3 separate regions of the Homo sapiens genome follow, and regions 1 and 2 are each linked to region 3. The links come from fine-mapping of genetic effects on gene expression. A gene starts in region 3. Each other region holds a variant in brackets. All regions are shown on one strand. Distances are from middle to middle.

Evidence for each region. PIP is the estimated chance that this variant, and not a neighbour inherited with it, causes the effect. A credible set is the group of variants that fine-mapping cannot tell apart.
Region 1: its variant is the best candidate, but not a certain one, in a credible set for the expression of NUMBL in blood mononuclear cells (TOPMed, PIP 0.79).
Region 2: its variant is the best candidate, but not a certain one, in a credible set for the expression of NUMBL in whole blood (TOPMed, PIP 0.50).

Annotation. Positions count from the first base shown.
Region 1 is chr19:40,666,985-40,677,684 of GRCh38, forward strand. NUMBL (NUMB like endocytic adaptor protein) reads right to left here. Exons shown (of 10, transcript NM_004756.5): 7 at 10,248-10,437; 8 at 6,360-6,665; 9 at 2,914-3,036; 10 at 1-1,154. The coding sequence ends at 484. Among named protein-coding and RNA genes, the nearest start is that of NUMBL, 18 kb to the right of the region's middle. The variant C/T (reference allele first, on the strand shown) is at 2,501.
Region 2 is chr19:40,650,468-40,661,293 of GRCh38, forward strand. No RefSeq gene overlaps it. Among named protein-coding and RNA genes, the nearest start is that of NUMBL, 35 kb to the right of the region's middle. RefSeq lists an enhancer at 1,771-1,820. The variant C/T (reference allele first, on the strand shown) is at 5,527.
Region 3 is chr19:40,685,061-40,695,886 of GRCh38, forward strand. NUMBL (NUMB like endocytic adaptor protein) reads right to left here and starts at 5,591. Exons shown (of 10, transcript NM_004756.5): 1 at 5,400-5,591; 2 at 1,851-1,935. The coding sequence starts at 5,423. COQ8B (coenzyme Q8B) reads right to left here. Exons shown (of 15, transcript NM_024876.4): 14 at 7,891-7,977; 15 at 6,470-7,313. The coding sequence ends at 6,975. RefSeq lists enhancers at 2,464-2,758, 3,882-4,821, 4,495-4,544, 5,760-6,697 and silencers at 5,384-5,723, 6,044-6,283.

The DNA of each region.
Region 1 (10,700 bases), 18 kb before region 3:
CAGCGTGTGGGCAGAGGGCAGCCCTTAGCTTGTGCTGTGCATGGGGGGAGGAGACGACCAGATTTGGGGTGGGCACTGGTGTGGGGCCCAGGAGAGCCCCTAAGCAAGTGTCCCCCCTCCATCCTGTCCAACACTGGAAGGTGGGGGTCAACAGAAACTGGGAAATGGAGTGTGAACCAAGGGCATTCAGTGGGATTGTGGCCAACCCCTGTGTCTGGGGTTGGGGAAGGGGGCATTGCCAGCCTAAGTCCGGCAGTGAAATGGTTCCCTTAGCCAGGCTGGGTCCGTCCCTGAATTCCATCCTGTTGCAACCTGGGCGTCACAATGTTGGTTCTGTAGTGGTTGTCGGGGTGGTTGAGGGAGGGGGGTGTTGAGAGGGTGTTGAGGGGCGCAGCCCCAGGGAGCAGGGTTAGGGGAGAGGTTGTGCCTCCACCCCCAGGCGTGGGGCACCTGGAGATGATGGAGTGGGTGGGGCGGCTCGGGCTACAGTTCAATCTCGAATGTCTTTTGCAGGTCGCCAGAAAAGGGGTTGGAGGGTTTCTCTACAGTGGCTTTGCCTTCTAATGCCGCCCACTGGGCCTCAAAGGGGTCCAACTCTGGAGCTGGGGCAGGCGCTGGCTCAGGGGGCCAGGGGGCCCCATTGGGGCGAGGGCGGGCCTGGCTCCCAGGGGCACTGGGTATGGCAGGGGGCGGGAAGGCCCCAGCTTTCCCAAGCAGAGTGGCAGGCTGAGGCTGGAGCTGGGCGGCTGAGCAGAAGGCGTTTGCCACCATCTGTGAGGGTGTGATGCCCACCACGGGCACCCGGGGCATCGGTGGGTAGCCCAAGCCCGGGTAGGCGGGCACAAAAGGGGGCTGCATGTGTGGGGGTGGCAGGAACACGGCCACTTGGGCAGGTGCAGCGTCAAAGGGCCCCACGGGGGCGGGGAAAGGCTGCAGGGCAGGAGGCATGGTGGGCACTGGGGCCACTGAGGCTGCTTGCTGCTGTTGCTGCTGCTGCTGCTGCTGCTGTTGCTGTTGCTGCTGCTGCTGCTGCTGGGCCTTGGCCACCTGTGACACCTCCTCCAGCCATCGCTCAGCCTCTGAAGGTGTCCGCTTGTGCCCAGGCTGGAAGGCAGCTGCAGGGGGCACGGAGGGCTCACCCCAGGCAGAAGTCCCTGGAGAGAGGAGAGGGACAGGTGAGGGAGGGGGCAACGGCTTCAGCAGAAGAACCCCAGGCTGGGAACTGGCATGGTGTGGGGATCAGAGCACGGACTCTGGAGCCAGACCGCCTGCCTCTGAATCCCAGCTCTGCACCTCCCGAGCTTGCTGACTTCAGGCGAGTGACTTCACCATTCTGGACCACGTAATGGTTCTGGAGTGCTAAGAACATACAATTCTGAGCTTCTAAGGCCCTATGATGAGAAAGTCTAAGTAGGACTGACATCCTCCTAGCCCCACTACCCTTCTGACTGGTCAGTGCCAAGCCTAGGATTCACTATTTTGTTTTGTTTGTTGTCTGTTCGTTTTGAGAGTCTCACTCTGTTGCCCAGGGATGCCCTATCTGGGCTCACTGCAACCTCTGCCTCCCAGGTTCAAGCAATTCTCGTGCCTCAGTCTCCTGAGTAGCTGGGATTACAGGCGCGCACCATTACGCCCGGCTGATTTTTTGTATTTTTAGTAGAGGCGAGGTTTCAACATGTTGCCCAGGCTGGACTCGAACTCCTACCTCAAGTAATCCCCCTGCCTCGGCTTCCCAAAGTACTAGGATTACAGGCATGAGCCACCACACCCAGCTGGTATTCACTATTTTGAATATCACCCTTGATTTTCTAATACCTTCAGAATGTATTGTTTTAGGAGTTAAGATTCTAAGATTGCATGGATCTTTCTCCACATGTATAATAGTATCCTAACATAGTAAGGTTTGACAGTTTAGGGTTGGGCTTTCTAAGATTCTCGAGTTCTACATTTACAGTGTTTGAGATTCTAAGGTGCACCTGTGGTTCTAGGATAAGCCCATGGCTCTAAGATGATACATGGTTCTCAAGGATTCCATGGTTCTGAAACGATCTCTGGGCTCTAAGGTGATCCCAAGATTCTAGCATGAGCACATGCCTCTGAGGTGACCCCGTGGCTCTACAATGATCCCGTATCTCTAAGATAATTCATGGTTCTAAAGTGATCACTTGATTCTCAGGTAATCCCACGGCTCTAAGATGATCCTTGGTTCTAGGATGATCCTCTGGTTCTAAGATGATCTGTGTTTCTAAGGTGATCCTATGGCTCTAAGATGATCCATAGTTCTAGGATGATCCCATGGTTCTAAGGGGATCCCGTGGCTCTAAAATGATCAAGGGCTCTGAGATGATCCATGGCTCTAAGGTGATCACATGATTCTCAGATAATTCCATGGCTCTAAGATGATCCATGGTTCTAGGATAATCCCCTGGCTCTAAGATGATCCCTGGGTCTAAGGTGATCACATGATTCTTAGGTAATCCCATGGCTCTAAGATGAACCA[C/T]GGATCTAGGATGATCCCCTGGCTCTAAGATGATCCATGGCTCTAAGATGATCACACGATTCTCAGATAATCCCATGGTTCTAGGCTGATCCCCTGGCTCTAAGATGATCCCTGCTTTTAAGGTGATTGCATGATTCTCAGGTAATCCCGTGGCTCTAAGATGATCCATGGATCTAGGATGATCCCCTGGCTCTAAGATGATCCATGGTTCTAAAGTAATCGCATGATTCTCAGGTAATCCCATGGCTCTAAGATGATCCATGGTTGTAGGATGATCCCCTGGCTCTGAGGTGATCCATGGTTCTAAGCCTGTAGGATCCCAAGACCCCTGGAGTGTCTGGGTAGCCCTGGATAGAGGAGGGGATACAGGAGGGACATGCAGGGTGTCTGCCCAGCAGAAAGCCTGGCTTTACCTGTTGTGGCAGGTGGTGGCCCTGGTGCTGGCGCTCCAGCACTGGCAAAAGATGAACTGATCTGTGTGCACAGAGCGTTGATGCTGTCACTGTCGCCGGCACCAGGAGGCTCCATCTCAGGCACTGGGAAGCAGGGCAGGACAGAGGTCAGCAAACAGGCCCAGACCCTGCCGCAGCCCCGCCCTCTACCCCCCGCCCTCGGTGGCCCTCTCTTCTGACCTGGATCCTTTCCCACTGTAGTAACTAAGTGGCCATGACCGCCAAATAACTGTGCATATGTGTGTGTCACATCTGAGCGGCAGAACGACTGAGTTAGTGTGTGACATTTGACGGCTGACAGTAACAGGGACCCCAAACCAAGGACCTCAAGATTTGTGTGTGGCCACAAACCAGAAGAGTTGTCTAAAACACTTAGCAACATATATTAGTTTAAAAATATGCCCAACCACGTGCATGGCAAGGACATGGGCCCAGTCTGAATGGGCTGTGGCATGGCCGCTCACTGGCTGGGGATCATTTGTCCAGCTTTGGGCAGAGAAGTGGGGTCCTGTCCACCCCACCCAGGCTGATCTATGGCAAACATCATGAGAGCAGAGATACACCTGTGCCAGCAAGGCAGGAGACACTGAGCAGGCATGGCGGCCCCGTGAGGGCTTGTGATGAGCAAAGGTACCATCCAAATAAACAATTAAGGACTCCCATGTGTGGTGTGTGACACATGTCTGTGATGTTTTAGCCAATGGCTGTCTCCAAGGGACCATGTAGATGCTCCAGTGAACATCAGAACTGGCCGTAGGAGTCTGCAGGTGTGCTGCGGGGGCGCCCGGGTGGGACAGCCAATGTCGACAATGATTGTGCATGTTCGTCCAAACAGGAATGCAGCTTCTGAGAGTGTGACTGGGGTCCGGGTGTGTGGCGTCCTGATGCGTGACTCCCAGGTGTGAGTGCATCTGCCGTGTGATGTATGAGTGTGTTTGCAGGTGTGCATGGATCTGCACATGTGGCTTTGGAGTTTGCATAAATCTGGGTGTGTGGTCTGTGAAGGTGTGTAAATCTGAGTGTGTTTCTTTTTTAAAAATATTTATTTATTTATTTTTGACACAGGGTCTCGCTCTGTTGCCCAGGCTGGAGTGTAGTGGCACAATCTTAGTTCACTGCAACCTCCGCCTCCCAGGCTCAAGCAATCTTCCTGAGTAGCTGGGACTACAGGTGCATGCCACTGCACCTGGTTAACAATAAAGGTTAATTTTTAAAATTTTTTTGTGGAGATGAGATCTTGCTGTGGTGCCCAGGCTGGTCTCAAACTCCTGAGCTCAAGTGATCCTCCTGCCTCAGCCTCCCAAAGTGCTGGGATTACAGGTGTGAGCCACCACGTCTGGCCATGTGTGACTTCTGACTCTGTGATTTTGGAGTGTGTGTGACTTGAGAGTATACCTGACTGTGAGTTTGTGACTTCTGAGCATGTGTGACATGTGTGTGGGGGGGTGCAATGTCTATGTGAGTATGTGAAATTTCTGTGTGGCAAGTCACATCCAAATAAGCGTGCAGCTGGCCACAGGAGTGTGAGGCTTCCAAATAAAGCCTGGAGCTCCTGCCACCTCTCAGGAGCACGTGTGACAGCCTGGGGAGTGTGCCTGATGTCAGGCTGCGTTAAGGACAGCAAATGTGAGGGTGTGTGATGGCCCAGGAATGCTGCAGGCATGGAGGGAGCGTGCGTCACTCTCAACAAGGGTTGGCATCTGCTCACCGGTTACCTTTTGGAGCAGCCCAGCCTCCTGGATACAGCTCAACACCCTCCCACATCAATCCCCGAGGACATAACGGGTAGGCGATGCAGATTTGGCATCCAGGAGCAAGAGAGTGGGCCAGACCACATGGGTTCACTGGCTGCTGGTGGGGAAGACAGCCCTTCTGCCTGCCTCCCTCAGGCAAAAACTCAGTAGCGTGCCACCTCTATCTTCCTTCCCTATGGCAGAGATTGCTCTTAATTTTTTTTTTTTTGAGACAGGTTCTCACTCTGTTGCCCAGGCTGGAGTGAAGTGGCGCAATCTTAGCTCACTGCAGCTGGGCTGAAGCAATTCTCCTTCCTCAGCCTCCTGAGTAGCTGAGACTACAGGCATGCGCCACCACACCAGGCTAGTTTTTGTATTTTTTTGTAGAGACAGGGTTTAGCCAAGTGATCTGCCTCAAGGGATCCTTGAGCCCCTCTTGGGCTCAAGTGATCTGCCTGCCTTGGCCTCCCAAAGTGCTGAGACCACAGGCATGAGCCACTGCACTTGGCTAGACATCACTTTTAGATCATGATGTACACCACCTGTCTCCTTTCCCTGGCCCATGGCAGACATTAGTAATCAAACACAATGCTTTTTTCCCCCACGGAGCTCTTTGCTCACCTTACCCGTCACCTGTCCAGACCTCATGGCTCCCCTGGCCAAGTGCTAGAAGAAACAGATCCTTGTAACTCCATCTTCCCTCCAAGTAAAACAGGACCTTTATATCTCCTCTCTCTTACCACCAGCCATGGCAGACAATGCCAATCAATTATGATGTGCTGCTCCTTTTCGTGATGGGTACTGCCTCTGCTCAACTCTGTGCCTACAACAAATGTTCCTGATCCATCACTATGCCCCTGACCCCTGGGATCTCTGAGCTCACTGGTGCCCTGCATGTCATGTTTCTACTGACCAAATTCTGGGAGTCTCCCCTTTGGGTAAAAACATAACACTCTTGCTACTCTTTCTTCTCCCTTGCCCATGACACACACTGCATGGAGATCATGACTGCTAACCGATCATGATGTGTGCCATCTTTCTCGTTTCCCTTAACCACAGCAGACATTGCTAATTGATCATGACTTGTGATGCCTTTTTTGCCATCCCTTGATGCTCCCTGCCCTAGGCAGACATTTCTAATCCATCACAATCCTCCTTTCCTCAGAGCCTGAGGAATACCTGTATCCTTCACCTAGCCAGATCTCATAGGTGAATGCTTGGAGGGAGGGAGCATTAACCTGTAGTGCTTCAGTCTACTCCTGAGCAAAAACAGGCCAATGGTGTTGCTTCTCTTCTTTCCCTGGCCCATGGCAAACTTCCTTATCCATGCCCGACTTCTTTGTCCATAGCCGACTTTGCTAACTAATCATGATGTGTGTCATCTTTCTCCTTTTCCTTAACCACACCAGACATTGCTAACTGATCATAACTTGTGATGCCTTTCTACTATCCCTTACTCAGAGCAGACACGGCTTATCAATCCTGATTTGTGCTATCTCTTTCCTCTCCCTTGCCCACTGCTAATCGATCATGACATGTTCCCACTCTCTCTCCTTTGCCCATGGCAGACAGTGCAAATCAATCACAGTGTGAACCATCTCGCCTCCATCCCTTGCCCACATCAGATAGTGCCAATTGATTCCAACGCCGTTTCCCACTGGGCCCAGGGCTCACCTGTGCCCTTCACCTGGAAGTCAGTGCGGCGCTGCAGCGTGGATGGCAGCTCATTCAGCCGTAGGCTCAGCTGCCGTTTGAAAGGCGAGTTCTTCTGGCTGAGTGCTGGGAACCCACGGAAGGAGCCCTGGCGAACCAGCTGCTCCAGGGGTGCATGGCGCCGGGGGATGGCGGCCGCAGTGGTGCCTGCAGCCACAGGGGTGCCTGCCTCACCCTTCTCACCAGGGGATGTGGTGGCTGGTGTCGGGGACACGTGCCCAGGCTGGGCAGGGCCAGGAGCCACAGTGGGGGCAGCTGCTGCCTCTGCTGGAGACATGGGGGAGATGGATGGTTAGATATCTCACCATGGCATGCAAGGCCTCTCCCACCTGGTTCTCTTGATCATTCTCCAAGGCTGCCTTCCTTGCCCAGTGAGTCCTGCCCTTAAGACAAGCTAGTCAAAGCCCTGAGATATCCCTCACCCCCACCCAAGTCATGATCCCCTTCCCCAGGAGGCTCTTGGAAAACCGTCCCCCAGGCTCACCCTCTGTGTCTCTCCAGCTTCCTGCCCCTTTCTGTCTTGCCCTGCTGCTCTCACCATTCTTCCCTCTAAGACCCTCTATCTCCCTTTTTGATCACTTAACAAACACTGATTTGGTGCTGGAACAACGTATCAGGCATTGTTCCAGATGCTTTTCAAGTATTCACTCATTCAATCCACACGACTACCCATGGGGTTGATATGATTCTCATTTTACAGATGTGGAAACTGAGACCCAGCAAAGGCCCAGTGTGATGTGCCCAAGTCCTACTGCTAGGAAGGGGCAGGCTGACTCTGGACCCCATGCTCCAAATGACTGCCCGCCCTGTCTCCCTCTGACCTGTCTCTCCATATCATGTTGTCTTTCTCTGTCACTGTCTGTTCCCCTCTGTCTCCCACCTCCCAGCCTTCTTCCCACCTCAAGTAGCTCCTCCCTTCCTCCAGTCATTCTAGACATGGCTTGGATGCTTCATCCTCTGAGAAGCTTTCCAGATTGTTCCAGGCTCTCAGCCTGGCTCCCTCCACTCTGAGACTGTTCTCTGTACTCTGGGAGGAAACCTGACCTCCCCACTCAGCAGGAGAGGCAGGCTCTTCAAGGGCAGGGCTGCCCTCACCCCTGCCAAACCACAAACACACATCTACCCTCCTACCAGGGCCTCCCCGAGCTGCAGCCTGAATGCCATGGAGATTAAACTCAGGCCCAGAGAGACCCTCCCATAAGGATGTCGCCCAGTGCTGCTTCTCCCATCGTGACACAATGGGGCACCCATGCAGGCCTGGCCCAAGGCAGTGGAAACAGCCCAGGACAGGTTGGAACCAGGAAACCTCCTCTGCCTCCACTCACTGTGTGACCTCAGGAAGTCCCCTCCCCTCTCTGGGCTCCAGTTTGCCAACTAGAAACCTGGGATAAACATCTCAGTGCTACCTCCCAAGCCTCTGAGAGGGTCAGTTTAGGTAGTGAATGTTAAATGTTTTGGAATCCAACAAAAGCATGCCTGGACACAGTGGTTCACGCCTGTAATCCCAGCACTTTGAGAGGCCAAGGTGGGGGGATCAGTTGAAGCCAGGAGTTCAAGACCAGCCTTGCCAACATGGTGAAACACCATCTCTACTAAAAATACAAAAAAAGATTAGCTGGGTGTGGTGGCACACGCCTGGGATTCCAGCTACTCTGGAGGCTGAGGCAGGAGAATCGCTTGAACCCGGGAGGCAGAGGTTGCAGTGAGCCGAGATCGCACCATTGCACTCCAGCCTGGGCAACAGAGCAAGACTCTGTCTCAAAAAAAAAAAAAAAAAAAAAAAAAAAACTTAGCTGGACGTGGTGGCGGGCACCTGTAATCCCAGCTACTCAGGAGGCTGAGGCACATAAATGTCTTGAAACCAGGAGGCAGAGGTTGCAGTGAGCTGAGATGGCACTACTGCATTCCAGCCTGGGTGACGGAGAGAGACTCTGTCTCAAAAAAAAGATGTTCTTTTTTTTCCCCTTACAATCCAGGATCTAATTCAGGATCACATCTCGCATCTATTAATACCTGTTAAACCTCATTAGTCTCCCTTAATCAGGATCAGTTCCCAATGGTAAATTCTTTGTAAATTCTAAGTAGTGTTTTCCCAAAGAACTTAAATTCACAGTAAAATAAATAAATAAATTAATTAATTAATAAATAAATTAATTATATGGTGACTCAGGACATACATACAATTATATTTTAAACACACACACACACACACACACACACACACACACACACAGAGTTTTAGAACTTACAAAGTATTTAACCATTTACCTAGAAAGTTAGTTTTACCAAGTATGTTTCAAACTTTCTTGATGGCAATCCAGAGTTAAGAGATATCTTTTATATGGTAGCCTCTTACACACGCGTGCACACACACACACACTCTCTCTCTCAAATAAAAGTATCATTAAATTATATTTAACCCTTATGCCATTCAATATACTCTGATATTTTCTATGATTCTCTATTTCATTGTTTTTAAATTAATTTTTTTTTTTTTGAGACAGGGTCTCACTCTGTCTGTCACCCAGGTTGGAGTGTGGTGGTGCAATCGCAGCTCTCTGCAGCCTCTACCTCCTGGGCCCAGGTGATCCTCCTGCCTCAGCCTCCTGAGGAGCTGGGACCACAGGTTGCACCACCACGCCTGGCTAATTTTTTAATGATTTGTAGAGACAGGGTTTCCCTATGTTGCCCAGGTTGATTTCATTTTTTTAAATGTCAGCCACATGGGCTGGGCCCAGTTGTCCACACCTATAATACCAGTGCTTTGGGAGGCTGAGGTGGGAGGATCGTTTGAGGCCAGGAGTTTGAGACCAGCCTGGGAAACACAGCAAGATCCCAGTTCTACAAAATATAAAAATAAAATTAGCCAGATGCTGTGGCTTGTGCCTATATTCCCAGCTACATGGAGGCTGAGGCAGGAGGATTACTTGAGCCCAGCAGTTTGAGGCTGCAGGGAGCTGTGATCGCACCACTGCACTCCAGCCTGGGCAACAGAATTAGACCTCAACTCAGACAACAAAACAAAACAAAAAATGCCAGCCACAGTACAGCAAATTGGCTTCCCAGGTCTTAATACACAGGTTGAAAAGCCCTGAGAAGGCCAGGCGCGGTGGCTCACCTGAGGTCAGGAGTTGAGGCCAACATGGTGAAACCCCATCTCTACTAAAAATACAAAAATTAGCCATGCCTGTAATCCTAACTACTCGGGAGGCTGAGGCAGAATTGCTTGAACCCGGGAGGTGGAGGTTGCAGTGAGCCTAGATCACACCATTGCACTCCAGCCTGGTTGACAGAGCGAGACTCCGTCTCAAAAAAAAAAAAAAACAAACAAAAAAAGAAAAGCCTCGAAAAGCCCCGAATTGGTGGATAGTAAACCACTTGGTGCGCCCTTAGAATATTGCCCAGAGAACTCTTTCCATGGAAGTTGCTTTATTTATTTATTTATTTTTTGAGACAGAGTCTCACTCTATTGCCCAGGCTGGAGTGCAGTGGCGTGATCTCGGCTCACTGCAACCTCTGCCTCCAGGGTTCCAGCGATCCTCCTGCCTCAGCCTCCCAAGTAGTTGGGATTACAGGCGTAGGCCACCATGCCCAGTTAATTTTTGTATTTTAGTAGAGACGAGGTTTTACCATGTCGCGCAGGCTGGTCTCAAACTTCTGACCTCAAGCGATCCGCCCATCTCGGCCTCTCAAAGTGCTGGGATTACAGGTGTGAACCATGGCGCTTGGCCTGAAGCATCCCCTACTTTGTAAACTGTTGAGTCTCTGCACCTCTGCAGCTCCCTGCCCCCTGATACTGGGTACCCTGTGCCCACTCTGTGCTCTGCTGGCGCTTGGGGCAACACCCACCTTTCTTCTTGTCCGGGGCCTCTCGCTCAGCAGGCCGCCCACCCCCAGACAGGCGGAAGGAGCCCTCGCGGGCGAAGCTGGTGCGGCTGGCATCGAAGGCGGCCGTGACCCCACATTCCTTCTCCCGTCGCTGTTTTCGCTCCAGGCAGGCGGCAAAAGCACAGCCCACAGCGTGGCTCAGCCTCTCGCCCTATGGGGAGAGGATGGGCGGGGGGGTTAGAGGCGCTGGGCAGTGCGGACAGGGGCCAGGGGCACTGGGTTATAGCCGCTAGGTACTGGGTTGCCCCGGATGAGTCTCTGCACTTCTCTGGGCCTCAGTGCTCATCTGCACCACAAGGAAGGGCTGGAAATGACAGCTCCAAGTGAGAGAAGCCAGAAACCAATGAGCCTGTTGTGTGGCTCCACTTACTGGAAATTCCAGAAGAGGCAAAACTAATCTATGGTTCTATGGTG
Region 2 (10,826 bases), 35 kb before region 3:
AAAACCATAATGGCCAGATTGGCTGAGCCAAGTCACATGTTCCTCAAATAGTAAGGTGAGTGGCTCACACTAGGGCTGCAGGAGCCACACCTGGGTTCAATTTCCATTCCAAACAAATTTCTGTCTTCTCTGCCCTGTTTCCCGTCAGTAACATAGAGATAATGAAGGCACTCATATGGTAGAGTTCCCGTGAGGATTAAATGAGTTAGTTAATGCAAAGCACTGAGAATGGTGCCCATATACAGAAAGCGTTCAAATGTTAGCTTCTGTTATCGTCATTACATGGCCATTCTCACCTCTTAAGGCTGCTTTTCTTTGCAAGCTCCTTATGCTCCACACATTTCCCTCTTTCTAGTTACTATTGCTTGGTAACAAATCACTCCAAAATATGGTGGCCCAAAACAACAACAGTCATCCTATTATTTTTCACTGTGTCTGTGGTCAGAGTTTTGGGAAGGACCCAACTGGGCAGTTCTGACTTGGAATTTCATATGGTTGCAGTCACTTGGCAGCTGAAACTGGAACAGGGAAGCAGCTGGGGGTGGATGGATCTCTCTCTCTCTCTCTTTCTCTTACTCTCTCCCCACTCCATGTTGTCTCAGGGCTTCTCAATGTGGTCTCTCCACGCGAACTGGTTTGGGCTCCCTCACATCATGACAGCCTCTGGGCAGTTGGACTTACATGGCAGCTTCGGCATCCAGTACAAGTGTTTTATGAAAGTAGCAGCCGCGACTGGGTGCGGTTGCTCACGCCTGTAATCCCAACACTTTGGGAGCTTGAGGCAGGTGGATCACCTGAGGTCGGGAGTCCAAGACCAGCCTGGAAAACATGGTGAAATCCCGTCTCTACTAAAAATACAAAAATTAGCTGGGCATGGTAGCACGGGCCTGCGGTCCCAGCTACTCAGGAGGCTGAGGCAGGAGAATCGCTTGAACCTGGGAGGCGGAGGTTGCAGTGAGCCGAGATCACGCCACTGCACTCCAGCCTGGGCGACAGAGTGAGACTCCATCGAAATGAAAGAAAGAAAGAGAAAGAGAGAAAGAGAGAAAGAAAGAAGGAAGGAAAGAAAGAAAGAGAGAGAAAGAAAGAAAGGAGGGAAGGAGGGAGGGAAGGAGGGAAGGAAGGAAGGAAGGAAGGAAAGAAGGAAAGGAAGGGGCCTTATCTCTTCTGATCTAGCCTTGGAATCATGCAGCATTACTTCTGCCACATAGTCTTGGTTACAAGCAAGTCACAAACTGCCTAGATGTAAGGGGAGCTTACACAAATTCCACTTCCCAATGGAAGGGGTATCAAAGTTCTAGAGGAATATATGGGCTGGGAAACATTGTTGCCACCATCTTTGGAAGTTACATCTGGCTTTTACTGGTACTGATTTAAGACCCACCTCTATACAGCCTGTGCCCAATAACATCCACCTGGGCACAGCTCCAACTCCCTGTTCTAAACAGAAATAGTTTATTGAGAAATCTCAATCCCTTGGGATCAAAAACATGACAGTTTCCATTTGTTCTGCAGTGACTGCTCTCTACCTGCTATCTATTGTTTTCCAAGACTATGATCCAAAATCACAGCATCCAAGACTGTGTCTTTTTTATTTATTTATTGTTTTCGAGACAGGGTCTCACTCTGTCGCCCAGACTGTAGTGCAGTGGCGCAATCTCCACTCACCGCAACCTCTGCCTCCCAGGCTCAAGAGATTCTCCTGCCTCAGCCTCCTGCGTAGCTGGGATTACAGGTGCACACCACTACTGCCTGGCTAATTTTTGAATTTTCAGTAGAGACAGGGTTTCACCATGTTGGCCAGGCTGGTCTTGAACTCCTGACCTCAAATGATCCACCCACCTTGGCCTCACAAAGTGCTGGGATTACAGGCATGAGCCACCACAGCTGGCCCCAAGACTGTGTCTTTATTATTATTATTATTTCGAGACAGAGTCTAGCTCTGTCTCCTAGGCTGGAGTGCAGTGGTGCGATCTCAGCTCACTGAAACCTTCACCTTGCCAGTTCAAGCCATTCTCGTGCCTCAGCCTCCGGAGTAGCTGGGATTACAGGCACGCACCACTACACCCGGCTAATTTTCGTATTTTCAGTAGGGACGGGGTTTCCCCATATTGGCCAGGCTGGTCTTGAACTCCTGACCTCAAGTGATCCACCCACCTCGGCCTCCCAAAGGTGGCTCACAGAAGTGAGCCACCACGCCCGGCCTGTCTATTATTTTTATTTTTAAAAATAAATGTATTGTTAATTTCCTTTTTCCTGTTGGATAAAGGCTACAGGGAAACTTAATGACAATTTTGCTAGAGTCTTTAATATTTCTCTCATTTTCATTCATTTAAAAACATAGCCTTCAGGCCAGGCACGGTGGCTCACACCTATAATCCCAGCACTTTGGGAGGCCGAGGCAGGTGGATCACTTGAGGTCAGGAGTTCAAGACCAGCCTGGCCAACATGGTGAAACCCCGTCTCTACTAAAAATACAAAAATTTAAAAATTAGCCGGGCATAGTGGCATGTGCCTGTAGTCCCAGCTACTCAGGAGGCTGAGGCAGGAGAATCACCTGAACCCAGGAGGTGGAGGTTGCAGTGAGCTGAGATCGCACCACTGCACTCCAGCCTGAGCGACAGAGTGAGACTCGGTCTCAAACAAACAAATACACAAAAAAACCCACAAAGTTCATGGGGAGGGAAAGGTGTAGCCTCTCTTGAGAACTTTCCTCTCTCATTTTCCCCCCAAACAGGATGATGCTTCCTTTCTCTTCTCTATCCTTTTCTGGACAGCCTTGGGTCCTCTCAGTAACTTATTTGGGTAAGTGGCTGGTTATAATGGCAGTGACCTCGAACTTAGGCTCTGGGGTAGTTGGCCACTTTTGTCCTCAGTTTTGGGCAGTAGTAGCAATTCTGGAAGTTCTGGGAAAAATCCAATTTGACATCATAGTACGAACCTGAAGGAAAGGTCTTGATCCCAAAGAGCTCTCGGCAGCTCATGGCTGTGACTGTCATCCAGGGCCTGGGCCTGGGGAAATGTTTGGGGATCTGTGGGATCCTTTAGGGACTGTCACAGTGACTCGGGAAATGTTGCTATAGGCAACTGTTCTGGAACTTTTTGGTCTTAGGACTCTTTTACATTCTTAATAGTATCAAGGACCCCAAACAGCTTTTATTTGTGTGGGTTATAACTTTTTTTTTTTTTTGAGATGGAGTTTCATTCTAGTCGCCCAGGCTGGAGTGCAATAGTGTGATCTTGGCTCACTGCAACCTCTGCCCCACAGGTTCAAGCAATCCTCCCACCTCAGCCTCCCGAGTAGCTGAGACTACAGGTGTGCGCCATCACGCCTGGCTAATTTTTTTGTATTTTTATTAGAGACAGGGTTTCACCGTGTCGGCCAGGCTGGTCTCCAACTCCTGACTTCAGGTCATCCATCCGCCTCGGCCTTTCAAAGTGCTGGGATTACAGGCATGAGCCACTGCGCCCGGCCTGTGTGGGTTATAGCTATTGATATTTACCATATTAGAACTTAAAACTGGCCATTTAAACAAATTTTTTATTATTGATTGATTTTTGAGACAGGGTCTCACCCTGTTGCCCAGAGTGGAGTGCAGTGGCATGATCACAGCTCACTGCAGCCTCGAACTCCTGGCCTCAAGTGATCCTCTCGCTTCAGCTTTCTGAGTGGTTGGGACTACAGGTGTGCACCACCACACCCAACTAATTTATTGATTTTTTTGTATACACAGTCTTGCTGTGTTGCCTAGGCTAAAACTGACAATATTAAAATCCAGCCATCCACAAGCACACACTGGCAGAGCAATTATGTCATCACATGTCATGGAGCCATTGTATGCTCATAAGTGAATGAGATTGAAATACGCAAAAAAAGTCCTGGAATTATTATGAAAGTAATTTTGGCCGAGCGCGGTGGCTCACGCCTGTAATCCCAGCACTTTGGGAGGCCGAGGCGGGCGGATCACGAGGTCAGGAGATCAAGACCATCCTGGCTAACATGGTGAAACCCCGTCTCTACTAAAATTACAAAAAAAAATTAGCCGGGGGTGGTGGCGGGCGCCTGTAGTCCCAGCTACTCCGGAGGCTGAGGCAGGAGAATCGCGGAGCTTGCAGTGAGCCGAGATTGCGCCATTGCACTCCAGCTTGGGCGACAGAGCAAGACTCCATCTCAAAAAAAAAAAAAAAAAAGAAAGTAATTTTAACTTTGTGGACAAAGTCTCAGGGACCTCCAGGAAACCCTGGACCAAACTTTGAAACTTGCTCTAAAAGCATTTGTAAGCCTGGGATGGTTAGGTATGTTCAACGTGCAGCCATGTAGGAGATAGTGCATGTCAAAAGGGCCCCTTTGGATGGGTTAATATCACTTTGGTTCAGTTATCTGTGGCCTGGAAGGGGTCCCTTGTGTACAAACAAAGCTGGGGAGTAGGAGGGAAGAATTTTTTTTTTTTTTTGAGACAGAGTCTTGCTCTCGTCCCCCAGGCTGGTGTGCAGGGGTGTGATCTTGGCTCACCGCAACCTCTGCCTCCCAGGTTCAAGCAATTCTCCTGCCTTAGCCTCCCTAGTAGCTGGGATTACAGGCACCTGCCACCACACTTGGCTACGTTTTGTATTTTTAGTAGAGACGGGGTTTTGCCATGTTGGCCAGGCTGGTCAACCCTGACCTCAGGTGATCCACCCTCCTTGGCCTCCCAAAGCGCAGGGATTTACAGGCGTGAGCCACTGCGCCTGGCCCAGGAGGGAGGAATCTTAACCATAATGCTCATCTTGTACTATCTACTGGAAACCCTAAAAATACAGAGACCCTGGAGCCACTTTCTGGGTTCTGCTCCCCTTCATTGCTTTCTAGCTGTGTGACTTTGGGCCAAGTTCCTTAACCACTCTGTGGCTCAGTTTCTCTTCTGGAAAATGGAGACAATAATAGTATCTGCCTCTCAGCGTTGTTATAAGAGTTACCTTGGCACACAGTGTTATGTGGGTGTTTACGCTGAGTATTACTGTTATTACAGTAATCATTCAAATCCAAGAAGCCATCAAAGGTAAGATGCATTGTTTTTTATTTTATTTTATTTTATTTTTTATTTTTATTTTGAGACAGAGTCCTGCTCTGTTGCCCAGGTGGGAGTGCAGTGGTGCGATCTCAGCTCACTACGACCTCCACCTCCCAGGTTCAAACAATTCTCCTGCTTCAGCCTCCTGAGTAGCTGGGATTACAGGTGTGCCCTACCACGCCTAAGTTTTGTATTTTTAGTAGAGATGGGGTTTCACCATGTTGGCCAGGCTGGTCTCAAACTCCTGACCTCAAGTGATTCACCCGCCTCAGCCTCCCAAAATGCTGGGATTACAAGGGTGAGCCACCACACCCAGCCAAGATGCATTGTCACTTCAAATCCCCAGGGGAGAAAAAACAGCTGCCAGTTAAACTATGACACATAATCATTTATAAGACACATCCTGATTTCCAAGTCATTGAAAAGGGGTGGGGAGGATAAATAAGTCAATTAAAAATGGTTTTATTCGGCCTGG[C/T]GTGGTGGCTTACGTCTGTAATGCCAGCACTTTGGGAGGCTGAGGTGGGTGGATCACGAGGTCAGGAAGTTCGAGACCAGCCTGGCCAACGTGGTGAAACCCCGCCTCTACTAAAAATACAAAAAATTAGCCATGCCTAGTGGCACAGGCCTGTAATCCCAGCTACTCGGGAGGCTGAGGCAAGAGAATCTCTTGAACCCAGAAGGCAGAGATTGCAGTGAGCCAAGATCGTGCCATTGCACTCCAGCCTGGGTGACAGAGCAAGACTCCATCTCGAGAAAAAAAAAAAAAAAGATGGTTTTATTCTGGAATAGGAGAGTATTTAAGGAAAGAAAATAAAAAATAAAGGAAAAAAAGAAATTTTAAAATTAAAAAAAATGATTTCATGTGTACAGAAGAATTTAGCAACAAGGATGTCCACCACAGCACTTGTCATAATGGCAAACCTGCTGAAACCCCAACCATTATGGATTAACTGCACAAGTTAAGAGAGAGCCACAAAATATTGTGACTGAAGGGGTTTTCAAAGATTGTTCCAAAACCCTGGGGATCCTCAAAAGTGAATCAATTTCTCTCTTTCATAATCTTTTTCATCTTCACTCTCCTATGAGTGCATAAAGCAAAAAATAATAAGCAGGTGACTTCTAAAAAGAAAAAACCTCTGGAAACTATGCCTCAACCCCATTCTAGAGCCTGCTGGGCCACTGCTCAGAAAAGGAAATGTGTGCCCCAGGCTGACCCACTCTTAAGACAACCCATTCTCCACATGCCTCTGCCTTCAGTTACACAGCTGTACCCAGAGAGGGGTCTTGTCTTTACTCAGCTGTCCATCCACCCTCCCTGTGTTGCAATGAATACATCCCTGGTATCTTCTGTGCCTGGCCCCAGCCCACCCCCTCCTCAGAGCTCCAGCCACACATTCCAGTGCCTTCGAGACTCACCTGCTTTGAAAGGTAGATCCTTACATTCAATTTTCTTGTTGAAATACTTCATGTGGTTTCTTTTTTCTTGACAAGCCTCTGACCAACACTTGGTGGTCATTCTTAAACCGTTGATTTTTCCCCTTCACACCTATTCCCCTCCACGATCACAATCTTCCCAGTCTCAAAAATGTCTCTACCTGGGACCTCAAGCCAGAAACCCAGGCAATATGGAGGCACTTCCTCTCCTCATTCCACATATGCCACTCATGGACAATTCCTGCTTTCCTCTAAGGCAGATGCTTACCACACCCCTACCCCCACCCTTCTATTTAGAAAATTTCTAAACATGCAAAAGAATTGCAAGAAAAGTAGAAGATATAATAATATACTGTGGATATGGATTCACTAGGTTTTTGCAGTTTTTTGTTTGTTTTTGTTTTGAGACGGAGTCTTGCTCTGTCACCCAGGCTGGAGTGCAATGGTGCGATCTCAGTGCAAGCTCTGCCTCCCAGGTTCAAGCAATTCTCCCTGCTTCAACCTTCCAAGTAGCTGGGATTACAGGCACCCACCACCATGCCCAGCTAATTTTTGTATTTTTCAGTGGAGATAGGGTTTTGTTACGTTGGCCAGCTGGTCTTGACCTCCTGACCTCAGGTGATCCGCCTGCCTTGGCCTCCCAAAGTGCTGGATTACAGGCGTGAACCGTCACACCTGGCCTTTTGTGTTTTTGTTTTTGTTTTGGTTTGTGTGTGTGTGTTTGTTTGTTTGTTTTTGAGATGGGGTTTCACTCTGTTGCCCAGGCTGGAGTGCAGTGGTGTGATCACAGCTCACTACAGCCTCAACCTGCTAGGCTCAAGCGATCCTCCCTTCTAAGCCTCTTGAGTAGCTGAGACTGCAGGTGCCCACCACCACACCCAGCTAATTTTTGTATTTTTTGTAGAGACGGGTTTTCACCATGTTGCCCAGGCTGTTCTCAAACTCCTGGGCTCAAGTGATTCCCCCCACCTTGGCCTCCCAAAGTGCTTGGATTACAAACGTGAGCCACTGTGCTGGGCCTATTTCTTTGTGTTTTAAGAGGCAGGGTCTTTCTCTGTTGCCCAGGTGGAGTACGATGATTCGATCATAGCTCACTGCAGCCTCAAACTCCTAGGCACGGGAGACCCTCCTGCATCAGCCTCCCGAGTAGCCCAGACTACAGGTGTGTGCCACTATACCTAGCTAATGAAAAGAATTTTTTTGTAGACATGAGTTCTTGCTATGTTGTCTAGGCTGGTCTGGAACCTCCAGCCTCAGGCGATCCCCTTGCTTCAGTCTTCCAAAGCAGTGGGGTTACAGGCGTGAACCACCTGGCCTGGTCTCGCTCTTTCTCTTTCGACATCTACATTGATCTGTAGCTATCTACGTACTATAGATATCTAAAAGTTATGTAAATGTCTACTTAAGCTTATAGGTATGAGCTACTGTATGCTATCTAAGCTTATAGGTATGAGCTACAAATTGCTATTGTGTTATGAGGGGAATTCAAAAAGTTGATGGAGAATGGAATTAAGAGATAAAAATTTTAAAAAAATCTTTATTTCTCACCATAAACTCCATCAAGGTCAAAGTCAAGACACTTTTGTAAACCATTATACCAGCCATTTAGTCTATCCCTAAATAACTGAGGGTCCCAGGAATTTAATCATGTCAGTGCAGCCTTTTTACATTTTCTCTTTCTTTTTTTTTTTGATGGAATCTCACTCTGTTGCTCAGGCTGGAGTGCAGTGGTATGATCTCGGCTCACTGCAACCTCTGCCTCCCGGGTTCAAGCCATTCTCCTGCCTCAGCCTCCTGAGTAGCTGGGACTACAGGCATGTACCACCACATCTGGCTAATTTTTTTTTTTTTAGTAGAGACGAGGTTTTGCCAAGTTGGCCGGGCTGGTCTCAAACTCCTAACTTCAGGTGATCTGCCCGCCTCGGCCTCCCAAAGTGCTAGCATTACAGTTGTGAGCCACTGTGCCAGGCCTTTTTTTTTTGTTCTTGTTGCCCAGGCTGGAGTGCAGTGGCATGATCTCGGCTCACTGCAACCTCCACCTCCTGGGTTCAAGTGATTCTCCTGCCTCAGCCTCCCGACTAGCTGGGATTACAGTCATGAGCCACCACACCTGGCTAATTTTTGTATTTTTTTTTTTAGTAGAGACAGGGTTTTGCCATGTTGGTCAGGCTGGTCTTGAACTCCCAACCTCAGGTGATCCACCCTCCTTGGCCTCCCAAAATGCTAAGATTACAGGCGTGAGCCACTCCGCCCAGCCCAGTCTTTTTACATTCTTAACTGAAGAAAAATGGGTGCCCTTCAAAGATTTTAAGATTAGGAAACAAAAAGTCAGAAGGAGCCAAATTGGGACTGCCAAGTGGATGCCTAATAATTTCCCATCAAAACTTGTAAAATTGCTCGTTTGATGAGGAGAATGAGCAGAAGCGTAGACATGCTGGAGAAGAACTCTCTGGTGAAGCTTCCCAGGCTTATTTCTACTAAAGCTTCGGCTAACTTTCTCAAAACACTCTCATAATAAGCAGATCTTATTATTCTTTGACCCTACAGAAAGTCAACCAGCAAAATGCCTTGAGCATCCCCAAAAACTGTTGCTATGACCTTTGCTCTTGACCAGTGTGCTTCTGCCTTGACTGGATCACTTCCCCGCTCTTGGCAATCATTCTCTGATTACGATTTGTCTTTAGGATTGCACCCGTGAAACCATGTATCATTTCCCGTTACAATCCTTCAAGGAAATGCATTAGGATCTCGATCTCACTTGTTTAGCATGTCCATGGAAAGCTCTGCTCTTCTCTGCAGCTGATCTGGGTGCGACCGTTCTGGCACCCATCGAGTGGAAAGTTTGTTTAGCTTTAATTTCAGTCAGAATTGTGTAAGCTGAGGCCGGGTGAGGTGGCTCAAGCCTGTAATCCCAGCAGTTCGGGAGAATGAGGCAGGAGGATCACTTGTGTCCAGGAGTTCAAGACCAGCCTGGGAAACCTAATGAGACCCCCATCTCTACAAAAAATACGAAAATTTAGTGTCAGGCCTCTGAGCCCAAGCTAAGCCATCATATCGCCTGTGACCTGCACGTATACATCCAGGTGGCCTGAAGCAACTGAAGAGCCACAAAAGAAGTGAAAATAGCCTTAACTGATGACATTCCACCATTGTGATTTGTTTCTGCCCCACCCTAATGATCAATGTACTTTGTAATCTCCCCCACCCTTAAGAAGTTTCTTTGTAATTCTTCCCATCCTTGAGAATGAACTTTGTGAGATCCGCCCCCTGCCCGCAAAACATTGCTCCAAACTCCACCGCCTATCCCAAAACCTATAAGAATTAATCATAATCCCACCACCCTTTGCTGACTCTCTTTTTGGACTCAGCCTGCCTGCACCCAGGTGAAATAAACAGCCTTGTTGCTCACACAAAGCCTGTTTGGTGGTCTCTTCACAGGGACGCGTGTGACACTTAGCTGAACGTGCTGGCACGCACCTGTAGTTCCAACTACTTCGGAGGCTGAGGTGGAAGGATCGCTTGAGCCCAGGAGGTTGAGGCTGCAGTGAGCCACAATCTCACCACTGTACTCAGCCTGGGCGACAGTATGAGAACCCTGTCTCAAAAAAAAAAAAAAAAAAAAAGAAAAAAGAATTGTGTAAGCTGTACCAATTGAGATGTCTATGGTGTTGGCTATTGTTTCTGCTGTTAACTGTAAGTCCTCTTTAATTAAGGCATAAACAAATTTAATTTTTTTCTGCAAAAATTGATGTGGATGGTATGCCACGGTGGGCTTCATCTTCAGCATGACCCAGGCTGGAGTGCAGTGGCGCAATCACGGCTCACTGCAACCTCTACCTCCCAGACTCAAGTGATCCTCCCACCTCAGCCTCCTGAGTAGCTGGAACTACAAGTGTGCACCACCACACCCAGCTAATTTATGTATTTTTTGTACGGATGGGGTTTCACCATGTTACCCAGGCTGGTCTCGAATTCCTGAGCTCCAATGATCCGCTGGCCTCAGCCTCCCAAAGTATTGGGATTACAGGCGTGAACCACCACGCCCGAACTTGTCCCTTCTTAAAACGAGTTATCCATTTGTAAATGGCTGATTTCTCTGGGGCACTGTCAAGTTTTTGGAAAACATCAATGATTTCATCATTCTTCCACCCAAGCTTCACCATCAATTTGATGCTTGTTCTTGCTTCAATTTTAGAATTCGTGTTGCTCTGATAGGGGCTCTTTTCAATCTGATGTTTTATTTTAGTGTCTCAAACTAGGTCCTGTTCAGACAAGTTATAACAAGTTAGTATGAATTTATTTTGGTGCAAAAAAAAAAAATTGAACTCCATGCATAGTTTT
Region 3 (10,826 bases):
AGGAGTCAGGTGCATGGGGTATGGGGGATGGTGGCTTGTCTCTGGAACTCTGAGACACAGCCATTCTGTGACAACTGTGTCTAGTCCCCAGGCAAGGCTTCTGGGGCCTTGCACTGATGACTGTCAGAGGCAGGGCTGTGGGTGTGTGGAGTGGGTGTGGAGGTGGCCAGCCACTAGGACAGTCTTCACTGATCAGCCATCCTGACAGTCCCAGGACTGGGAGCACCAACAGCAGAGGGGGATGTGTGTGTGTGTGTGTGTGTAAGCAAGTGTGCAATGGTATGTTCTGGAACGCTGTCTATGAGGGGCTCTATATCTGAGCAGGCAAGTAATGTCTGTGAGTGTGTTTCTGAAGGCTGTCTGGAAGAACGCATGTCTGAGAATGGTGTAGGATAGTGTGCATCTGTGAATGCTGTCCGTGAGGGATGCATCCAAAAGTGTGGTTGTTGTCTGTGAGTCTGAGGCCCTGAAGGTTGTTGCTGAAGGGCATCGATGTCTGAGAGTGGTTGTGAGTGTGTGTCTGCTGTCTATATCCGAGAGTGCCGTTGTTGTCTATGAGAACTTGTGGCTCAGTGCCTGTTGCCTGTGAGGGTGTGTCTGTGTTTGAGATGAGGCTGTCGTCTTTCAAAGGGTGTGTCCATGGCTGTTATCCATGTAGCTATGTCTCTGTGTGAAGGTGTGGCTATTGTCTGTGATGACATTGCCTCGGAGAGTGCATCTGAGGGATCTACAAGACTGTCTGTGTCCAAGAGTGCAGCTGTTGGCGGTGAGCCTGTGTGACTGTGGCTGTTGCCTTAGAGTGTGGGTGTGTGGGTATTGCACAGAGGGTGTATCTGTGTGCAGTGGTGCATCCGTTAGGGTGTGTGGGAACATGAGGTTGTCTTTGAGAGTGTTTTCATGAGGGTTATTTGTAAGGGTGTGACTGTTGCCTGAGAGAGTGCTGGGTGTTCTTTGTGAGACTGTGTGCATGTTTGTACACAACCGTAGCTCCCTGTGAGAGCCTGGGCCCGCGGGTGCTGTCTGTGAAAGTGTGGCTGTCGTCTGTAGAAATGTGGGTCTGTGTGTGTTGTCAGACTGTGCAAGAGTGTGTCTCTTTTTTTTTTTTTTGAGACGAAATTTTGCTCTTGTTGCGAATGAAGGCTGGAGTGCAATGGCATGATCTCAGCTCACAGCAACCTCTGCCTCCCAGGTTCAAGCGATTCTCCTGCCTCAGCCTCCCAAGTAGCTGGGATTACAGGCATGTGCCACCACCCCTGGCTAATTTTGTATTTTTAGTACAGACAGAGTTTCTCCATGTTGGTCAGGCTGGTCTCGAACTCCTGACCTCCTGACCTCAGGTGATCCTCCCGCCTCAGCCTCCCAAAGTGCTGGGATTATAGGCATTGAGCCACCACGCCCGGCCAAGAGTGTGTCTCTTGAGAGTGTGTATCTCAGAGTCTGTATCCAGCGAGCGTCTGTGGTCACCTGTGAATCTGGGTGTTGTCTAGGAATGTGTGTGTGTGTATATATGTGTGTACATTAGTGTGATGAACATCTACTTCAGCATGTGTTCAAGTGTGTCACTGCATTAGCAAGTGTGTGTGATCTGAAAGAGATCTGTGTGTGTGTGTGTGTCTCTAACCGTATATCTACAGATGTGAGTGTTTGTGACTCTGCACTTGAGGCTGTAAGGGTGTCAGGGTGTGGGTCTGTGCATGAGTGGGGCTCTGACAGTCGCTGAGGAAGATGCCTGAGGGTGTCCACTCATGAGTGTGATTAAGCCTGTGTGACCGCAGGGACAGCTCCTCTGGTCGTGTTAGGCAAGACCACATACCCATTCAGCCCTGCCCTGTCCCAGGCTGGTCGCTCACCTGGCTCCGTCCTGCAGGTTTCTGGGGGCCCCGGGGCCCCACAGGGGGCTGGGGGCAGGTGCCGCTCAGGCCTCCGGGGTCCGCCCTGCCCGAGTAGGGGAGGAGAAGGTGAGAAGTTTGTCTGGGTTGGGGCTCAGTCTGATACTTCACCCCGACTTTGGACTTCGGCCAGCCCCCTCCATCTTGGGCTCCCTGATGAGAGTCCTAGTTGTCCTAGCAACTGTTACCAGGGAGATCAGCCACCTGGTTCCAAGGGCCCAGGAAGGAGTAGGTATGTTTGGGGGGCATATGTTGGGGATGTGCTGGCCTCAGGAGAGCCTCACTGCCCAAGGGGATGCTGTGAGAGTGGCCTTGCCCTCCAGATGCATGTGCAGGGCTACACACATACGCAGCCAACTCATATCTACAGGTGTCCCTAGCATCTGGCCACAGCTTTACACACTTGGTTACACATAGACGCAATCACAGCTACACACCTCAGATCGCAGATACACAGAAACAGTCCCAAACCCAGAAAGCTGCCACTGTAAACATCTGGCCGCATATTCATGTTCGGACACACACAGTCTCTACTACAGACATTTGTCCACATACATGCAGCATGTCCTGGCCCACTCAGTTCCCACCGCAGACACCTGGTCACACCACCCACTGAAATTTGGTCACTTCCACATTCTCAGCCACATACAAAGAACGGGGCCCAGACAACCCACTAGAGCCGCACATGCGTGGCCACACCCAGTGACAGCTATGTTTCCTCAGGCACCCGCCCAAGATACTGACGTCACAGGCCCACCCAGATAGAATCACACCCAGAGTTCACCCATTTGCTGACCCAGTCCCACACGACACAATCGCAGCTATATACACTTGTTACACGTATCTCCACTGCTGCACACTGACATCTGGTCACAGATGCACACGGACAGACACACATTTGGTCCCACGGAGACCACATGCAGCCTCAACCAGACCAGTCACACCAACACACTGTTTTTGGCCACACACTGTCACGTGGTCACACATACTCAGTCATAGGTGCTCAAATCTGGTCACAGCATCAGTCACACAGTCTATTGTGACAGCCACACTCATAGGGACAGTCCTCTATACACAACCACATACAGAGGTACTGATGGCCACAGCATGCAACCACCCACAAACAACTGTCCCCAAGGATGGCCTCCCTCAAGACACAGCCATGGTGGTCCTATAGGCATGGCCACAGCATCAATGTCCATGTGACCCAGCCACCTATCATGGTCATAATCCCGTCACCCAGTGTCCATACACAGCTGTACCATGTCACTCCAATGCAGCGAAACATATAGCCTTTCTTCATGCAGGCACACAAGTCACACAGACAAGTATGTGGCCATATAGAATCACAGCCCCGTGTGGACAGGTGCACAAAGTCACAAGCCCCACCTACACACATATCTCACACATAGAGACATAAGCACACAGTTTTAGTTTCCCATGTCACAAGTACACAGTCCAGTGTATGCACATAAATGCAGTGACCAGGATGTGGCATTTATAGCTGGGTTTACACAGAAGACACAGGTCCTGACGGAGCCATGTGCACAGTCAGGGGCCAATCTCATCACCAAATCACACATTCTAACACAGGTAGTCCAGCACATACACACAGAGACAAAAACAGGCACACAGCTACAGACCCCACACTCTCACAGATGATGACATAGACACAGACATCTATAGTCACCCAGGGTCAGACATGCAGGTCAAACACAATAATATGGAAGCCATAATCATATACACACCCCTACAAACATAATTTCCTGGCACCAGCACGGAGACACATCCACAGCTTTAGTCACACACAAATAATCCCTCTAAATAGCCAGGGTTTCAGACACCAAGTCAAATACATAACCCAAATCACACATGCAAGGCTAGAAATACACACAATCACTCGTTATCACACACACTGCTAGATACAGTCATTTATATTAATACAACCTCAGTCACACACTCAGACATGGTTCTGCATACGCAACCACTGTCATACACAATACTGTCACACAACCCCAGTCACACAGATACAATGTGACTTCAGACACAATGGCAGTCACACAGGCAGAGTTGCACAGACAGGTGTGTGTCACTCACGTATATAAAATCAGGTAGAGACACAACTATAAACATTGTCAGTCACTGGGAGGGTCACACATGCACATGGAGCCATAGACAACTCCACTCACACACAGTCACAACTCCACCCACGTCCTGTCAGTCACACGCATGCCCACCCCCAGACTCAACACATACTGTCACATACCCAGTTATAGTTACCGAGGCATACAAACACAGGGTCACAAAAGACACAATCACAGACAACCACAGTCACAACCATGCACACCTCCAAACACAGACAGACTAAAAAGTACAGGATTCTGCACAGTGAGCAGCTGTCACACACACATACACAGTCACACAGATACTAGGGTCACAGACACAATCATAGACACCACCACAAGCACACACACACGACACAGGATTCCTCAGTCACCAGCTGCAGCGTACGCGTGCACACACACACACACATACACAGCCACAGTCACACAAACACAGGGCACACTCCTAGCCACCTCCCCATCGCTTGCTTCCCCCCTTCCCCCCAGGTACCACACACAAAGCCGCCGTCACCGTCACCGCAGACACTGCAGACAGACAGGGCTGCACCCGGTCCCTGGGGAGCCGCCCCCAGCCCAGCCTGTATCCTGGAGCCTGAGGGCCAGGTCCAGGAGGGGGAAGCGGTGCATTGTCTGCGGGTGGGGCCACTCTTGGACAGCTGGGCAGCCCTGGGGACAAAGGGGGTGGCCTAGGGATCCTGTGCCCTGGGACCCATGACCAAGCCAGGGGGTGGAGGGATTGGGGGTTGCCTGAAATTGTCCTTATTTTATTCAGGCTGGGGTGGGGTGGAGTCCCAGGCACAGGGACCTTGTTTTGAGAAGTGGCTGTGCCTGGGACTCCGCCCAAGGATTGGGGGGATGCTGTGCCCAGGGTGCCTCTGAGACCTGGGGGCAGGCTGTGCTTGGAGTCCCCCTAGGCCTTGGCGTGGTGGGAACGCTGTACCCAGTGACCCCATCCTCGAGACCGTACCTAGGCAGTTGTTGTGCTGAGACCCCCTTAGGCAGGGAGAGGTAGGGATTGTGTCTGGAATCGCGTCCTGGAGGCCTTGGTTTGATACGGGGGCTGTGTCCCCGACCCCATCTCCATCCCCATCTAGTTCTAGGAGTTGTACCTAGAATCTCTGTACCCCTGTCCTTGGTTTTGTGGGGGGTCTGTGTCCAGGATCCCTATTTCCAGGGCCTTGGCAAGAGATGGCCCAGGGGTCTGTGCCCAAGACCCCGGTCTCCTGGGCTTTGGCTTGTTGGGCCTGTTCCTGGACCCCCACCCGGGACCACCCTCTCCAGCCTTGGCACCCTCTCTCCATCCGGGCGCCGCGGCCGCCTCCCACCCTCCGCCACATCAGCAGCGGCGCCGCCCCCGACCCGAGCCCCCCTCTCCCGCCCTTCTCACGCTGGCCGCCGCGCTGCGGGACATCCAGGGCCCGGGCGCCCCCGCCTCCCGCGGCCCTGGCTGGGCCTGGCTCCCCGACTGCTGCTGCTGCGGTGGTGGCGGCGGCAGCTCGGTCTGACGCCGGCCAGGGCCCGGGGCCGGGGGATGGTGCGGGATGCACGCGCGCGAGCCTCCTCGGCTCCCGGGAGGATTCCGTTCCGGGGGCGGGGGAGCGTCCCTCGGCCTCGGCTCCCCGCCCCGACCCCGCCCATTGGCCCGCCGCCTGCCGTATATGCAGAAAGGTCCCGCCCCGCCCCGCCCCTTGGCCTGAAGACCCCGCCCACACGCAGACACCATCCCGCCTTCCCCGGCGCGGCCACCGCCCCGCCACGCCCATTGGCCAGTCCCGAGCTGAGCATGCCTATGAACATCGCCGAGTCCTTTCCCCCGGTCCGTCCTGGCCTGGGCTCCCTTTCCCTCCGTGACACCTGACCTCAGATCCCCTCCAGCTCCGCGTCCGAAAGAGTTGCTTCTAGAGGCGCCTTGCCGCCCCACACCCCCAAATCTTCCCGCTAACCCCATGGTTCCCCAGCCCGGCGGGGGCGGGCAGGAGCGGTGACGAGGCACTTTTTGCAAGGAAGGGGAGGGGGTGTGAACAGACCAAGGCGTCCTGATGCGCGATCGGTTCGGCTTTGGGAACGGGGGCGCCGGGGTGGGACCAGGGCGCGGTTCTGGCCGCTACGGCGCCCCCGCCGCCCCCTACGCCAATCCTGTGGGTTTGGCAAAGCAGCTGGCAGGGACATTAGAGCCCATTAGTAAAGGCGAGGTTGCCAGGAGTGAGGGGAGGGAGCCCGCAGCCAAGAGGCACTGTGTGTGTGGGAGGCCTCAGCTGCCACAGCCCTTAGAGCAGGTGGTCAGCACGTGGGGGGGGGTGGGGAAGGCGAGAAGGAGGTTCCCGGCAACAGATGGCACAGGCAGGGCTGAGGCTTTCAGACAAGGGGGTGCAGGGGGGCTGGCCATCTGCACCTGGAGGCCGCTGGCGAGCTCCTCCCCCTCTCCCCCCAACCCTAGCGCAGAGAAAAGAGCTGGGGGAAGGGGAGGGCTGCTTTTATTCCGATTGAAGATTCAGCTCCCCCCCACCCCGCACCCCTACCTCTCCAACACACTGAGAGGCTGGAACCCGGGAGAAGGCAGCTGTTGGAGGAGCGAGGGAGGCAGAGGTGAGGACTGCCTCCAGGACCATCTCGCCTTCCACGGGAGGCTTGAGGCAGAGGTGAGGGCTCCCCCTGATGAGTCTGATCTGCATAACGACATGCAGCGGCCCAAGGCTCCCTCAAATGTTGGCAAAGATAAGTTAACCGCTTCCCTGGCTTAGTTTTCGGATACCCACTTTCGAGTGGGGAGGTGCAGGATCTAGGGCACGAAGTTGGGAGTTCCCCAGCCCCAGGGATCCTGAGCTCCTGGGCCAAGGAGGAGAGCCAGGCAAGACTGGGAAGCCCAAGGGGGCTCCTCTGACCCAGGGCAGACGGGGAAGGGATAAGAGGCACTACAGCAGGGTACGGCCTGCTCTGGGGACTGAATCCCCCATGGAGGCTGTCATGAGGGATCCACCCAGGAGTCCCCTTTGGTGGGGAGGCTGCCGGCAGTGGCTGCGTCTGGCTGGCGACTGGCCCAGTAGCGGTGGTAGGTGTCCTGGAAGAGGTCCCTGCAGGCGATGTGGGCTCGGAGGTGGGCACAGGCCAGGAAAGCCCCTGCCAGCTTGCGGTGCAGGGCATAGGTCTCCTCGGGTGGGGGACACAGCCGGTGCCGCAGCAGCACCGGGATGAGGTCCTGTATGCGGCGGGCCGTTTCCCCCGACCCAAAGTCATAAGGGCCCTGGGTGGCGAAAGGCTCCCCCAGGATCATCACTGCCTCCACGTGGGCGTCGGAGAATGCCTGGGAGTGGGGGTGGGGGGAGAGCAAAGGCAGCCAGTGTGGACATAGAGCCCTCTGCATAACCCAGAAACAACGTGTAGCCTCCACTCCCTCCAGTCTCCACCATCAACACAAGCCCCGACTCCCCCAAGAGTGAGCAGCTTCCACTCCTTCCAGAGCCTGGACTAGACAAGCAGCTGCCTATTCCCCGAGTAAGCACCCCTTACTTCCCTGCAGAGCCTCCAACAGACAAGTAGCCCTCTACTCTCTCTACAACAGAGAAGCGGCCTTCGCCCCTCCTGAACAGATCCACGGTGCCCATGTTCCCAGGGTTCCTGAGAAGTCAGGCAGCCACCTCCCCCCACTCCTCCCCAAAGCCCCCAGCATGGATAAGCATCCCTCCTAGAGTCACCCACTCCCCAGGTATAGACACACAGCCTCCATTCTCCCTAGTGGAGACAAGCCCCTCCTAGAGTCCCCCAGTCCCCGGGTATCGACATGCCCCATCACCTACTCGAGTTCCTCAGTGGAGATAAGCAGCCCCCCACTGCACCCCACCAACAGACACCAGCCCCTTTCTCCCCCAGTGTCTCCCCACCTTGGTTTCAAAGCCTGTGAGGAATTTGAGGTCCCTGGACTTCTGCAGGACACAGTCTCTGTCTCCATCAGCTGCAGCCTTCACCACCTGGGGAGACGGGTGGGAGTTAGAGGGACAAAGGCCGGGGCTCAAGGGGGCTCTGGAGAAGAGGAGCTGGAAGCCTGGGCCTCCCATGTACCCACCTCCATTCTCATCTGCCTGGGCCCTCCCTCACCTGGAAGCTTCCTGCTCCCAACTTTGCCTGTCTGTGACTCCCTTAAAGACTCTTCCAGAGCCTGGGAGTGGAGGTGGTTAGGGATCCTGCCCACCTAGAGGGCAATGTGGGGCCTGCCCGGGAACTGCCACAGTGAAACAGTGCAAGAAACAAGTGTCAGGGCTGCTGGTGAGTCCAAACACTCAACTGGACGGGTATGAGCGTGACCCAGAACTGCATCCAAAGTTGCCAGGGGCCATCTCTCTGTCTCCCACACTGGACTTTGAGCCCCGTGAGAGCAAGGATCCCAGTTGGGTTTAGTCGCACGGGGCACAGGGTCTGGTGCTGAGGAGGCCCTGGGTGAACCTTGCTTTAGCAAATGAGCGTGTGGAGCAGAGCAGCTCTCCAGCCATGAGCTCACACACACAGGGCAGGAGTTGTGGGCATGGAGAGATGCCCAGCTGGGGCCAGCTGGCTAGGGTTCCGTCCCAGCTCTGCCACCTGCCGGCCTGTTGGGCCTCCACTTTCTCATCTGTGAAGTGGGGATGCCAAAAGTGCCTTCCTCATGGGGCTGTTGGGAGGATAAAGAAGGTGATGCCTGTGGCCTGCCTGGCGCTGTGTCTCATGCAGGAAGCACCGTAAATACTATAATCTACCATTATTAAGAGGTGGGCACGGGGGTCCCTATTTCACAGAAGGGGAAGCAGACCCGGAGTAGGGAGTGGAACCGGGTCACACCACTCACTACTGGGTTGCCCTTTTTTGTGAGGAGGGGGATTCGGGATTAATTCCATTCCCTCTCTGCTCCCCCTGCCCGAGCATGTCTGGCCATCTGTCAGGCCTGTGGTCCTCAGAAGCCAGGGCTTTTATAAAGTGGCAAAGGCTGCAGGCCTGGGTGGGAGGGGAGGGTGTCAGTGGGGAGAAGAAGGGTCTCAGCTTTGTGCCTCAGTGGCCGGCAGAGAGGGCCCCAAGGGGCCTGTGTGTAAGGGGTTATCACCTCCTCTTCCTGTTCCTGTCTCAGAGGTGGCCCCACCAGTCCCCAGACCAGACCCCTAGACACCTCTGTCCCCAACTTCTAGCCCGTCTGCTCCCATGGACTGCCAGCTGGGCATCTCCCAGCCACCCCTCTGCCCCTCTCCACAGCTGCCCTGAGCTCCCACCCCCAGGCTTAGAGACCACTTCTTATTCAGAGGGAGTTTTCAAATTCTGACTGCATCCCTTCCCTGCTCAAATCTTTTCCACGGCTCCGCAGGGCACCTGGATACAGTACGAGCTGTAGAGCGCAGCCTCTAAAATCCGCAGTGATTTGCTGCAGCCTCGTCACTGTGCTGCCCCCCGACCTGCCCTCCCACTCAGAATGGGAGCTTCCTTTGGGTGCTCTAGGGCCTTACTACTACCAGTGTGGTCCCCATACGGGTAGCCCTGGCCTCACATGGGTGCGTGTCAGAACATAGCATCTTACACCCACCTCCAGACCAGAATCTGCACTTGCACAGGATCACCAGGCTTCACATGCACATCCAAGTCTGAGAAATGCTGCTCTAATGGGACTGTCCCTTATCACTGCCTCGTCTTGGCACATGTTGTCTATCTGAAATACCCTCCGAGCCTTTTCCCAGTTGGCCCCCCTCATCCCTCAGGTCTCAATGCTGACACTCCCTCCTCCGGGAAGCCCTCCTTGGCTCCCCAGGCTGGCTCAGGCTCCTCCTCTGGGCTCACAGTGCCCTGCGCTTCCCCCATCCCAGCCCTGTCCATGCTAGGTCCTCACTGTCGCCTCACTGACTATGAGTTCTGTGAGGAGGGGCCTAGGCTGGGCCCAGGTCACTGCTGTGTCTCCAGCTTTGCCTAGAATAGAGCTGGGCACAGAGGAGGGGTCAGAAAACATTTAGATTGGCTGGGCAGGAGGGCTCATGCCTGTAATCCCAGCACTTTGGGAGGCCAAGGCAGGAGGATCACCTGAGGTCAGCAGTTCGAGACCAGCCTGGGCAACATGGTGAAACCCCATCTCTACTAAAAATACAAAAATTAGCCGGGCGTGGTGGCACATGCCTGTAATCCCAGCTACTCGAGAAGCTGAGGCAGGAGAATCGCTTGAACCCAGGAGGTGGAGGTTGTGGTGAGCCAAGATCGAGCCACTGCACTCCAGCCTGGGCGACAGAGCAAGACTCTGTCTCAATTAAAAAAAAAAAAAAGAAAAGAAAAAAAAGGAAAAGAAAACGTTTAGATTGATGGCTACATGATTAGAGGACCCAGGGCAAATGTCCAATCTCAACAACGAATGAAATGGTATTCTCTGCAGCCTCTAAGACAAACTGACCCCAGTGGGTGGGAGAGACGAGCCAAGTACGTGAGGAAACACCTCCTGTAGACAGAGTTGCCCCCAGGGACACACACCTGGGCTGGACACCAGGGCCCTGGACAGCATGGGGTCTGGAGAGGTGACAAGATGGTCACTGTGGGCCTTTCTCTTAGGAGGGAGCTGGGCAGTGGTTGGAAGCTTGGGCTCTGGACCTGGACCACCTGAATTTGAATCCCAAGTCTGCTGTGATCTTGGGCACGTGACTTAACCCCTCCAGGACCCAGTTACTTCATCTGGCCTAAAACGGGCCTAAAAACGGTCCTTTTCGCATTGTGTTGCTGTGTGGTTTATATCGGTTCCTATACGTAAGCACTAAAGATGGAGCCTGACATATTAAGTGCTTGGTGTGTGCTAGTTGCTACGAGTATTACTATTATTTATTAT